2 separate regions of the Homo sapiens genome follow, and region 1 is linked to region 2. Evidence: fine-mapped expression QTL. A gene starts in region 2. The other region holds a variant in brackets. All regions are shown on one strand. Distances are from middle to middle.

Evidence for each region.
Region 1: its variant is fine-mapped to the expression of SLN in lung (TOPMed, PIP 0.95).

The regions. Positions count from the first base shown.
Region 1 is chr11:107,822,473-107,827,864 of GRCh38, reverse strand. All of the region lies in intron 1 of SLC35F2 (solute carrier family 35 member F2), which reads left to right. Among named protein-coding and RNA genes, the nearest start is that of SLC35F2, 34 kb to the left of the region's middle. RefSeq lists an enhancer at 1,899-2,398. The variant A/G (reference allele first, on the strand shown) is at 2,687.
Region 2 is chr11:107,709,178-107,714,569 of GRCh38, reverse strand. It overlaps SLN (sarcolipin), which reads left to right and starts at 2,514. Exons shown (of 2, transcript NM_003063.3): 1 at 2,514-2,607.

The sequences.
Region 1 (5,392 bases), 110 kb before region 2:
ATCTCGGCTCACTGCAACCTGTGCTTCCTGGGTTCAAGTGATTCTCCTCCCTCAGCTTCCTGGATAGTTGGGATTATGGGTGCTCCACCACGCCCAGCTAATTTTTTTTTTTTTTTGAGACAGAGTCTTGCTCTGTCGCCCAGGCTGGAGTGCAGTGTTGCGATCTCGGCTCACTGCAACCACTGCCTCCTGGGTTCTAGTGATTCTCTTGCCTCAGCCTTCCGAGTAGCTGGGATTACAGGTGCATGCCACCATGCCCGGCTGATTTTTGTATTTTTAGTAGAGATGGGGTTTCGCCATGGTGGCCAGGCTGGTCTCGAACTCCTGAGCTCAGGTGATCCTCCCGCCCCGGCCTCCTGAAGTGCTGGGATTACAGGCGTGAGCCACCACATCCAGCCATTTTTGTATTTTTAGTAGAGATGGGGTTTCACCCTTTTGGCCAGGCTAGTCTTGAACACCTGACCTCAAGTGATCCACCCACCTTGGCCTCGCAAAGTGCTGGTATTACAGGTGTGAGCCACCACGCCCAGCTCCTAGTTCTTTTTAGTGGGAGGTAGTATTTAGTTGCCATTATCTAGGCACTAGGGGTGTTCATAATTAATGGATTAGTCATTGTTTCAGAGCTTTTTAGGGGAAAGAGATAGGATATATATATGTATATGTTATGAAATACTCATGACATACTACGAAGTACTCATGAGTCAATTGTACCTTTCAGTAAAGTTCAAAACTATAAGGTTTTTAACTCAACCTCTTCAATCTTACATCTTCATCTTTTTTCTATATATCCCAATGAATACATCAATATTCATATTGTATATGTATGTATATACGATATTCATATATCAATATGTATATACAATATTCATATTGTAGGGGGACATAGCACTGAAAACCAGAAGAGGTTAAAGGGGCTTCCATCAATATAATTTTCTTATTTTCTGTATTCCACAGTATTTGTAAATACTCCCAGAATAATATCAACACCATATCAAAACAGTTTAAGCTATTGTACAGTTCTTTTTGATCCTATGGTATATTTTATTAGGAGTGTACTATCAAATTAGTATATTTTAAAGTCCCTTGAAATAATTCCTGTCAGGTTTTGCTACCAATTTTTAAAACATCAAGTTTATTTTAAATTTTATTTTAGATGTGGCTTTTTTAAATTTAATTTTTGTTTTACATAATTATAAGTTATGTAACATACTTACATGGCCTCAAAGGCAAATCTATAAAACAAGGTATAGTCAGACATACACCTTTTACTTTGCTCCCTCTGCTGTCCTCCCTATACACAACTTTTAAAAAGTTTTGTTTTGGCTGGATGCAGTGGCTGATGTCTGTAATCCCAGCACTTTGGGAGGCCAAGGAGAATGGATCACCTGAGGTCAGGAGTTCGAGACCAGCCTGACCAACATGGAGAAACCCTATCTCTACTAAAAATACAAAATTGGTTGGACGTGGTGGCACATGCCTGTAATCCCAGCTACTTGGGAAGCGGAGGTTGTGGTGAGCCCAGATCGAGCTATTGCACTCCAGCATGGACAACAAGAGCAAAACTGCATCTCAAAAAAAAAAAAAAAGTTTTATCTTTCCTTTTAAAAAATTAACAAATTATAGATAAATATTTGCATTCCATACCCATTTTTCTCCACATTTGCTTCCTTTTTAAAAAAGGTATACCTGGCAGTCACTTTATAACAGTACATATAAATATGTGCCTTGCTTTTTATAGCTGTACAGTAGTACTCCTGTGTGTTTATTCAGCTAGTCTCCCATTGTTAGACATTTTGTTTTTTTCCTTTAGTCTTTTGCTAGTATAAATAGTGCTGTAATGAATAGCTTTGTAAATACACCTTTTTGTATTTTTGCCAGAGTTGCCTTGGGGTAGATTCCTTGAGACAAAATTGCTAGAAATTGTCAAATCAGCACCCCCAAACTCTCCCGCTGAAATAGAGATTTATTATTTTACGCTTTTACCAGCAACAGTCAGAAGTACTGTTAAGTTTTTGAAGTGTCAAAAACAGATCCTGAACAGCCCATGGATTGCATTCACTTCTTCCACGGATTCCTAAAAGTTGAGAGACCTCAGAATCAGAAGCATTGCTGTAGACCCTTGCTCACTCAAAGTCTGGTCCGTGGACCAGCAGCATAAGTATCTCCTGAGAGCTTCTTAGGAATGCGGAATCTCAGGTCGGGCGCGGTGGCTCACGACTGTAATCCCAACAACTTTGGGGGGCCGAGGTGGGCGGATCACGAGGTCAGGAGTTTGAGACCAGCCTGACCAACATGGTGAAACCCGTCTCTACTAAAACTACAAAAATAAGCTGTGTGTGGTGGCAGGCGCCTGTAATCCCAGCTACTGGAGAGGCTGAGGCAGGAGAATCACTTGAACCCAGGAGGTGGAGGTTGCGGTGAGCCGCGATCGTGCCACTGGACTCCAGCCTGGGCAACAGATCGAGACTCCATCTCAAAAAAAAAAGAAAAAAAAAAAAAAAAAGAAAGAAATGCGGAATCTCAGGCCTCTCTCCAAACCTACTGAATCAGAAGCTGCACTTTAACAAGAGCCTTAGATGATTCATATCACATGAAAGTTTGAGAAGCACCAGGCTAGGGCTGTGTTATTCAATACTATAACCCCCAGCCACATGTGGTTATTTAAATGAAAATGAATTAAAATAGA[A/G]TAAAACAAAAAATTCAGTTCCTCATTTATACTAGCCACATTTGAAGTGCTCAAGAACTACTTTTCAAACATTTCCATCGTTGTGGTAACATCTACAGTATTGCACAATGCTGATCCCTGGCTTCACTGTCTAATTTGGTAGCCATTCTCCATATATGGCTATTTTATTTAAGTTGAAACGAAATTACATTAAACATTCAATTCCTCATTCACATTAGCCATGTTTCAAACACTCAATGGCTGCATATAGGTAGAGGCTACTCTATTGGATGGTGCATATATAGAGCCATGTTTCAAACACTCAATGGCTGCATATGGGTAGAGGCTACTCTATTGGATGGTGCATATATAGAATAGACAGGTATGGTCAAGAGGTTACCAAAAGACAGGGCGAGCCAGAGGAAGGAAGGAAATAAAATGCACTCAGTGCCTCAGGTGGGTGGATGTGCTAGGTACTTTTATAGGTTACATCAATTAACCCTTAGGCGCATAAAGGTGGTATTACACTCACTTAAAAAAGACATAAGAGAACTACCTAACACTAATAAAGAGTAGAGTTAGATCTTTGGATTCAAAGACTAGGATTCTTTCTGCTATGTTCAGAAGGAATAATCTTTTCTTGAAGGTCACATCCAAATTGCACTCTCTACTAGCCTTTTCCAGAACAGCACATGGTGTGAACCACTGTTTTCACTTGCCTGTACCTGTTTCTCCTCTCTTTCATGTTTCAAATTTAAATCCAGAACCCAGTTTTATCTAACTCTGGAGTTTGTATTTTTTCCACTGTAACATTCATTGAGTTCACTTTTGAGGGCCTCTTGTCTACAGTATTGTCTGCCTTGCATTTTAACATGATGCCATCTTCATAATAGTGCATTTTTTGTTAATAAACATTTACTGAGCACCTATTCCGAGTAAGACATCATCCAGTGAGCAAAAAGAAAACACTGATTTCCTTTCTTTTACTTGCCTTCTTTGTGAGGTGATCATATACACCAATACACTATCTATTTTTTAAAATTTGACTTTTTTAGCTACTTTGAGTTTTGAATATGACTAACAGAATGTAGGTTCTTCACAATTGCAAGCTACTCATGCTTACTAGAATTAGATGATACATTGATGGCTAAACTTTTGAATCGTAGGACTATGGAGATGGAAAGAAAACAGTTCATCTTGGCTGCTACTCACTATGTAAAGAAAAGCTACTTATAATTTATTTCTTTTCTTTTTTCTTTTTTTTTTTTTTTTTGAGACTGTCTTGTTATGTCGCCCAGGCTAGAATGAAGTGGCATGATCTTGGCTCACTGCAAACTCCGCTTCCTGGGTTCAAGTGATTCTCTTGCCTCAGCCTCCTGAGTAGCTGGGACTATAGGTGCACGCCACCACACCTTACTAATTTTTGTACTTTTAGTAGATATGGGGTTTTGCCATGTTGGCCAGGCTGGTGTCAAACTCCTGGCCTCAAGTGATCTGCCCACCTCTGCTTCCCAAAGTGCTGGAATTACAGGTGTGAGTCACAGTGCCTGACCAAAAACTACTTATAATTTATTTCTAAACATGCTTCCGATATAATTTAAAATGCTTTAGAAATAGAAACTGGGTAGCTTATGTGCAGAGTGCGAGAACTTGGCCTAAATGTATATTTCTTTTTGGGTTCATAATAGGATTTTTATAGACGTACTGGAAGTTATTATTCTTTACCAGGTATTTACAGGTGGCAGATGTAATGGATTTTAAAATCTCCCCCAAGTAACTATGTTCCATAGGAGTCTTAGCACTAATATGAAATCCTGCCTTTAGCTGACAACATGCAACCTAGCAGCACAGATTTATTGAGACATAAAGTGAAGGGAATGCATAATTTGCATTCAAATAATGCATCTTATCGGTCACTTGGAACTCCTTTTTTTCAAATAAAAAGAAAAGAATAATTTAGTGGTTTGCCGTCCTGATCATGTCTTAGACTCATCTGGGAGACTTAAAATAGGCTGATACTTGGAATCTACCCTCTGAGAATCTGATCCAACTGGTTTGGGCTGGGGTCTTGTTGTCAGTGTTATTTTTAAAGCCCAGTGATTTTTAAATATATAATCAGTAGAGGACTGCCTATCTAATTTGAAATAGTAAATAAAGAAGAGCTAAAGAAATGAATGCATCTCATCATTGTGTCTCATATATATATTATATATATGTGTATATGAATGCATCCCATCATTGTGTCTCATATATATATATAATGTAAAACTAGTGTTTAAATTAGGCACAAACTTGTATTATGGCCTTTCCTGCATTCCTCAATCTTCCTAAAATACCTTTCAGGTGTGTGATTGTTTTGACTCCTCTGTGAACCTTCTCCAGGACATCTTGAGCTTTCCTTCTCCTTGGCTGCATGCACAACTCTTATTTTAACCCTTTCTCATTTTATTGTGGTTTTGTGTTGTGAGGTCTGTCTGACTCCTCACACAGAAAACTTCTGAGGTTGTTCAACAATAGCAAATACCCTATTTGCCAGGCACTATTAATCATGGAGAATATAATGTCCCTTTCCTCCTGGAGCTTAGAGTTTTGGGGAAAGAACAGTGTGTGGTGGGTACTGTGATGGAGGGTTGTGGTATTTTGTGGGGGCACACAGTGGAGCTCCCCGATGTGTTCTGGGGAGAAGAAAGAGGGTCTGGGACTAGAAAATAGGTGAGTCTTAATTCT
Region 2 (5,392 bases):
AATAATGTTGAGTTTATTTTTATTTTATTTTGGCTCCTTGCAGGAAACAAGATTTTTTTTTTTTTTTTAAGCAAACCTGCAGATCCTGAGGGTTAAACCCTCCTTATGCCTTTGAGTAGTTGTCAGGTGATTTGGGGCGGCTTGCATGTGTTTCTGGAGAGGGTAAAGCTAAACTAGTGATAACTACATTCCAAGTGTAATCCCAATCTCTTGACATTACAGAAGAAACCACTAATTTTCAGAAGCGTCTGAAGTCTGGGAATTTGTCAATGCACTGGGCACAGTAGTCCTTGGTGCAGCTTAGACATGCTTAAATGAGGCAAACCAGACTAACCCATCAATTCGGTCAAATAAGAAGTAGAATTTTTCTTCTAAGTTACTTTGAAATTGACCAATTCAACAAAATGACAACATTGGAGAGCTCTTTTGGTGATACGTTAACATTTCGCTATTGTATTTAACATTTTAAATATTGTAGAGCTAATTCATAATCTGAGATGTACAAAATAAATGCTTATCCCATAAACCTAATATCAACACATGATATACTACAAATAATTTGATTCCAAATGAATTAAGAAAAAAGGTTTTCAAGTTTCAGATTCTTTTACCAAAAATATCCTGGGAATTTGAGATTGTGCCTATGCAGCCTCAAACGGATGAATAAAAAGTAATGTAGGCCGGGCACCCGGTGGCTCACACCTATAATCCTAGCACTTTGGGAGGCTGAGGCGGTTGGATCACCTGAGGTCAGAAGCTCAAGGCCAGCCTGGCCAACATGGTGAAGCCCCATCTCTACTAAAAATACAAAAATTAGCCAGGCATAGTGGTGCATGCCTGTAATCCCAGCTACCCAGGAGGCTGAGGCAGGAGAATCGCTCGAACCCGGGAGGCGGAGGTTGCAGTGAGCTGAGATCACGCCACTGCACTCCAGCCTGGGTGACAAGAGCAAAACTCCATCTCAAAAGAAAAAAAAAGTAAAGTAAAGTTTTGTTTTTTTCCCCTTTGGGTGGTGAGATTAAAAGTAATTTAAAAGTTTTAAATACTTTAATATATTTTCACATGTCCTACAATAAATATATAACTTTTTTAATTTGACAAAAAATAATTTTGAGTGGTTACAAAAAGGGACAGGTGTGGCTTGGTAACTAGAAAAACATTCCCAGCCTGGGAAACAATCTAGTGAGAGCTTGGAGGCAGAAGACAGAACTCTGATTACATTCAAGGAGTTTGCCAGATGGCAACAGATAACTGCCAATGTTCGGTTGCACTATAATTATTATACACTCTCTGTCACTTCAGCAAGCGCTCTTTTCACAAGACAAGTGGTGACAGAATGTTGTATTAAGATTACCCGTTGCTAAGCTTATGTTAAAATGAGGAAATGAAATGGAAAGTCTTGTTTTGGTAATGTCTCTGGGGTATGAGGAATGGAGGGAAAGGTTTGACTATGAGCATAACTGCATAGAGAATTTTGTTTGTTTATGCCTTTTGGGAATGCATTATTTTGATTGACCCTAATTGGGAATTCAGAGGGGGAGATTTCCTCTATTATCTATAAAGAAAGGATCTGCTGAGCAAACACAATTGCTAGGGTCATGTTTAAAGTACTTAATTGATCTGCTTTCAAGTCTAATTTAACACTTCAGGGGCTCCAAACATGTGATACATTGGTTACAAACTCATCTTAGTCTAATTTTAGTTAGTGTTCATATTAGAAAGTTATATAATACTTTTCTTTCTTTCAGATATATTCTATAATTCACATTTTTCACTAATTTTACCCAGTTCTCCTTCCACTCCCAATCTATCCAAATAACTGAGTTGAACTGTGTGAGTTTACTGCTCTATTAATTTATTGCCAGAGATATACAAACCATGACTTCCTCGGCTGTTTCAGATGAAACTGTAGATCCACGTGTAAACTTGCAATGCACAGCTTAGCTGGAAAGTTACGTGGAGCAGGTGACGGAGGGGATAGCTTTCACTGCTTGGACTAAAGTCAGTTTTGAAAGAGCTAAAGATGCCTATTGAATTCTGGAGTGTGTGTGTGTGTGTATGGGTGTGCATATGTGTGGGTGTAAGGCAGCAAACTCTTCACATTTCAAATAACTAAAGATATGGGTGGTAAAATGAAGTCACATTTTTACACCTCACAGGCTGACTAGGGAGAGCAGTCAAATGCAGCATCGATTGGTTAAAATTAGTCTATCATTCTTGGTTTATGATGTTTTAAAGACATGTTAAAGTTATTCATGAAGATGTAAAAGACACATTTAAAACCCACATCAATTGCACTAAAAGTCAACTGGAAACAGAAGGTTTTTAAATCCTGGTGGTGGCAAATTGGCAGCCAAAGGAACAAAGTCTTAGTCAACATATTTCCATGTCCCCCGAACACAAATAGCCTCGAACCTTCGGAGGGTGTTCCTTTGAGATGTTTCATCAGTGACATCACAGTGATTGCCAGCTTCCACGGACTACTTTAGGCGCTGCCCAGAGTCCAGGAGTCCAGACAGCCTGGGAGGGGAGAAGGAGTTGGAGCTCAAGTTGGAGACAGCGAGGAGAAACCTGCCATAGCCAGGGTGTGTCTTTGATCCTCTTCAGGTAACTGCAGGATTTTTATGCTTAGCATACGGTGTGTGTGTGTGTACAAGCTGCAAATGAGAAAGGCAGAGGAATGTTTGCATTTCTTAATGAAATAGGCAATGCCCCTTGGATACAGCATGCCTTAAGATATAAAGTGAGTACTATTGCTTTCTGTTTTCCTTTTTTTTTCTCCTAAGGGTATGCATTTTCTCCCTTCCTAGTAAAAAAAAATTTTTTTTCTTTCTTGTATTATGGAAGATGGTCTTTTTTCTATCTTCTCTAAGTCTCCATTCAAAGAAAGCCAATGTCAAACTTCCTGCACAATTTATTCAGAGCTTTTTGGGTTTTAGTTCATCCATTTGCAATCACTGGATCATATGGCATGACCTTGACTTCAGGGAATGTTTAAAATGAAACCCAAAGTGTCTTTATTGGTTAAAAGCAGAAAAATGGAACTTGGCTGATCTGAATTTCTGCCTAACTGGTTCATTCTTCCTAAAGTGTATAAATGTGTGTGAAAGGAATGTTCACACCACACCTTACAGTTAGCATATGTGTTGATTGAATTGAATTCACTAGAAATTCTCACCTTAACTCTTCATGTTTTATTCATCTAAAATCACATAAAACAACAAATATTCAAGGTCACCATTAAAGTGCAAGAAGTAGTAAGAGGTAAATCCCAAGAAAGAAAGAAGTGTGATGGGTAGCCTGCTAATTCAGAAATGACTGAAAAAAAAAAAGTTAAGAGTGCATAAACATACACAGTTTAAACAATAACTGAAAGGCAACACTTCTATAATTATCATCCAGGTCAAGAAACAGATCATTGCCAGCACCCAGAAGCCCATTCTTGATCAACCCCCATTCTGCCCCAAGATGTTGGGATCCTCTTGTCCCTGTTATTCTTTATAATTTGACCATCTATGTCTGCATGCCTAAACAATATGATTAACCTCCCTATTTTTGACATCATATAAATGGAGTCATATTCTCTGTTTCTTTTGTAAATTCTTCTTTCACCCAACAATTATATTTGTGAGATCTACCCATTTTCTGTGTAGCTATAGTTCATATATTTTCTTTGCTTTATGAAATTCAAATGTATAACTATACCACAATTTATCATCCATTCTGCTGTTGATAAACATTTGAGTTGTTTCCAGTTTGGAGTTATTGTGATAATATTGCTGTGAACTCTTTATTTATGTAACCTGGCACGCACGTCCTTGACTGTCTTAAGGTAGAAGTGAAATGCCAGATATTAGAGAATGAACATTTTCAACATTAATTCTAAGAAAGCTAAATTGTTTTCCAAAGTGGTTGAAAATTTATGCTAACTTTGTTTAGCCAGGCCAGTTAATTGCAGTGACAATTCACTTGTGTCATAACTCCTAGGAATTCTAGTAACTAGTTCCAGTCTGCTAATTCTAGCTTTGCCTCTAACTTGTTATCTGTCATTACACAAACATCTTAATCTCCTCTCTCTAAAAGTCAGTTTCTCAGCTGTAATCTTGAGAAAGATAAAAACTGCAGTAACACTTGCCTGAGTTGTTGCGAAGGTAACACAAACAGAGCTGTGGAACAGCTTTCAATAGTATTTTTCTCATTTTCTGAGTATATCCTGTTGGATCACTATCCATGATTCCCATGACTTAACAGCTTAATTTAATAGGCAGATTTGGTGGGACCGTTGTTTTGCTCTCCTTGAATTGTTTTGACCATTATAAGCCAGGCTTCATATTTTCTGCTTATCTCTGCATTTCTTGAGAACTTACCCAAATAGATGGACATTTGGACTATGGTTTTATTTCATTGATAAGTTTATAAGAAAGAGTCTGTCTTCGTTTCTCATTCCTTTGCCTCCAGGCACCTTGGCAAGACTCATTACCGTTCTGTTCTCCTCTGCTCTTTTGTACATTCTCATAAATCCTTTTTCCTTGATCCATTCATTTTATTCTGTTTACTTTCTCCTCCATGCAAATCTTTGTAAAGATTTTCTATTTTTTCCCCTTTTTATTTTCTTGGAGAGACAGGGTCTTGCTGTGTTATCCAGGCTGGTCTTGAACTCCTAGGCTCAAGTGATCCTCCCACTCCAGCCTCCCAAAGGGCTGGGATTAGAGGCATGAGCCACCACGCCCAGCCATTTGTAATGGTTTTCATTGGCAATTTACTATTTCCTTCATGCTGAGGTCTAAAAGATGGATAATAATTAAAAGGGAGATGAAATATAAATCTGTCATCATTTGGCTATATATCTACTGGTTGGCACCATCTGATTTGAACTTGTATTTTTTTTTGAGACAGGGTCTCATTATGTTGCCTAAGCTGGTCTTAAACTCCTAGGCTCAAGGGATCCTCCCACCTCAGCTTCCCAATTAGCTAGGACTACAGGTACCGACTGCCATGCCTGGCTGAACCTGTATGTTATGCCAATTACACAATATGAAAAATGATCATTCAGTTGGCATTTATGCAATTAACAATTTGGTCCATTGATAATATAATCAATACAGTAATTACAATTAATAATTCAGTCATGCTAGATAGTTTAAAAATACCACTCAGACCAAAAGCTTGCTAACAACCCTTTCAGCCTCTTGAACTCTCACCTTTAGCAAACACACAAAATACCCTTTCTCCCTAAACTTTCACTCTACAGTAGACTTTGGTCCTAAATGTCTAAAACATAGATATCGAATTATCTAAAATATATAAATCTTTAATTTCATTTAGGCTGCATAAATAATGTGCAATTTACACCATCTCACTGAAGACAATAGTTTGATGACTTCATTGCACA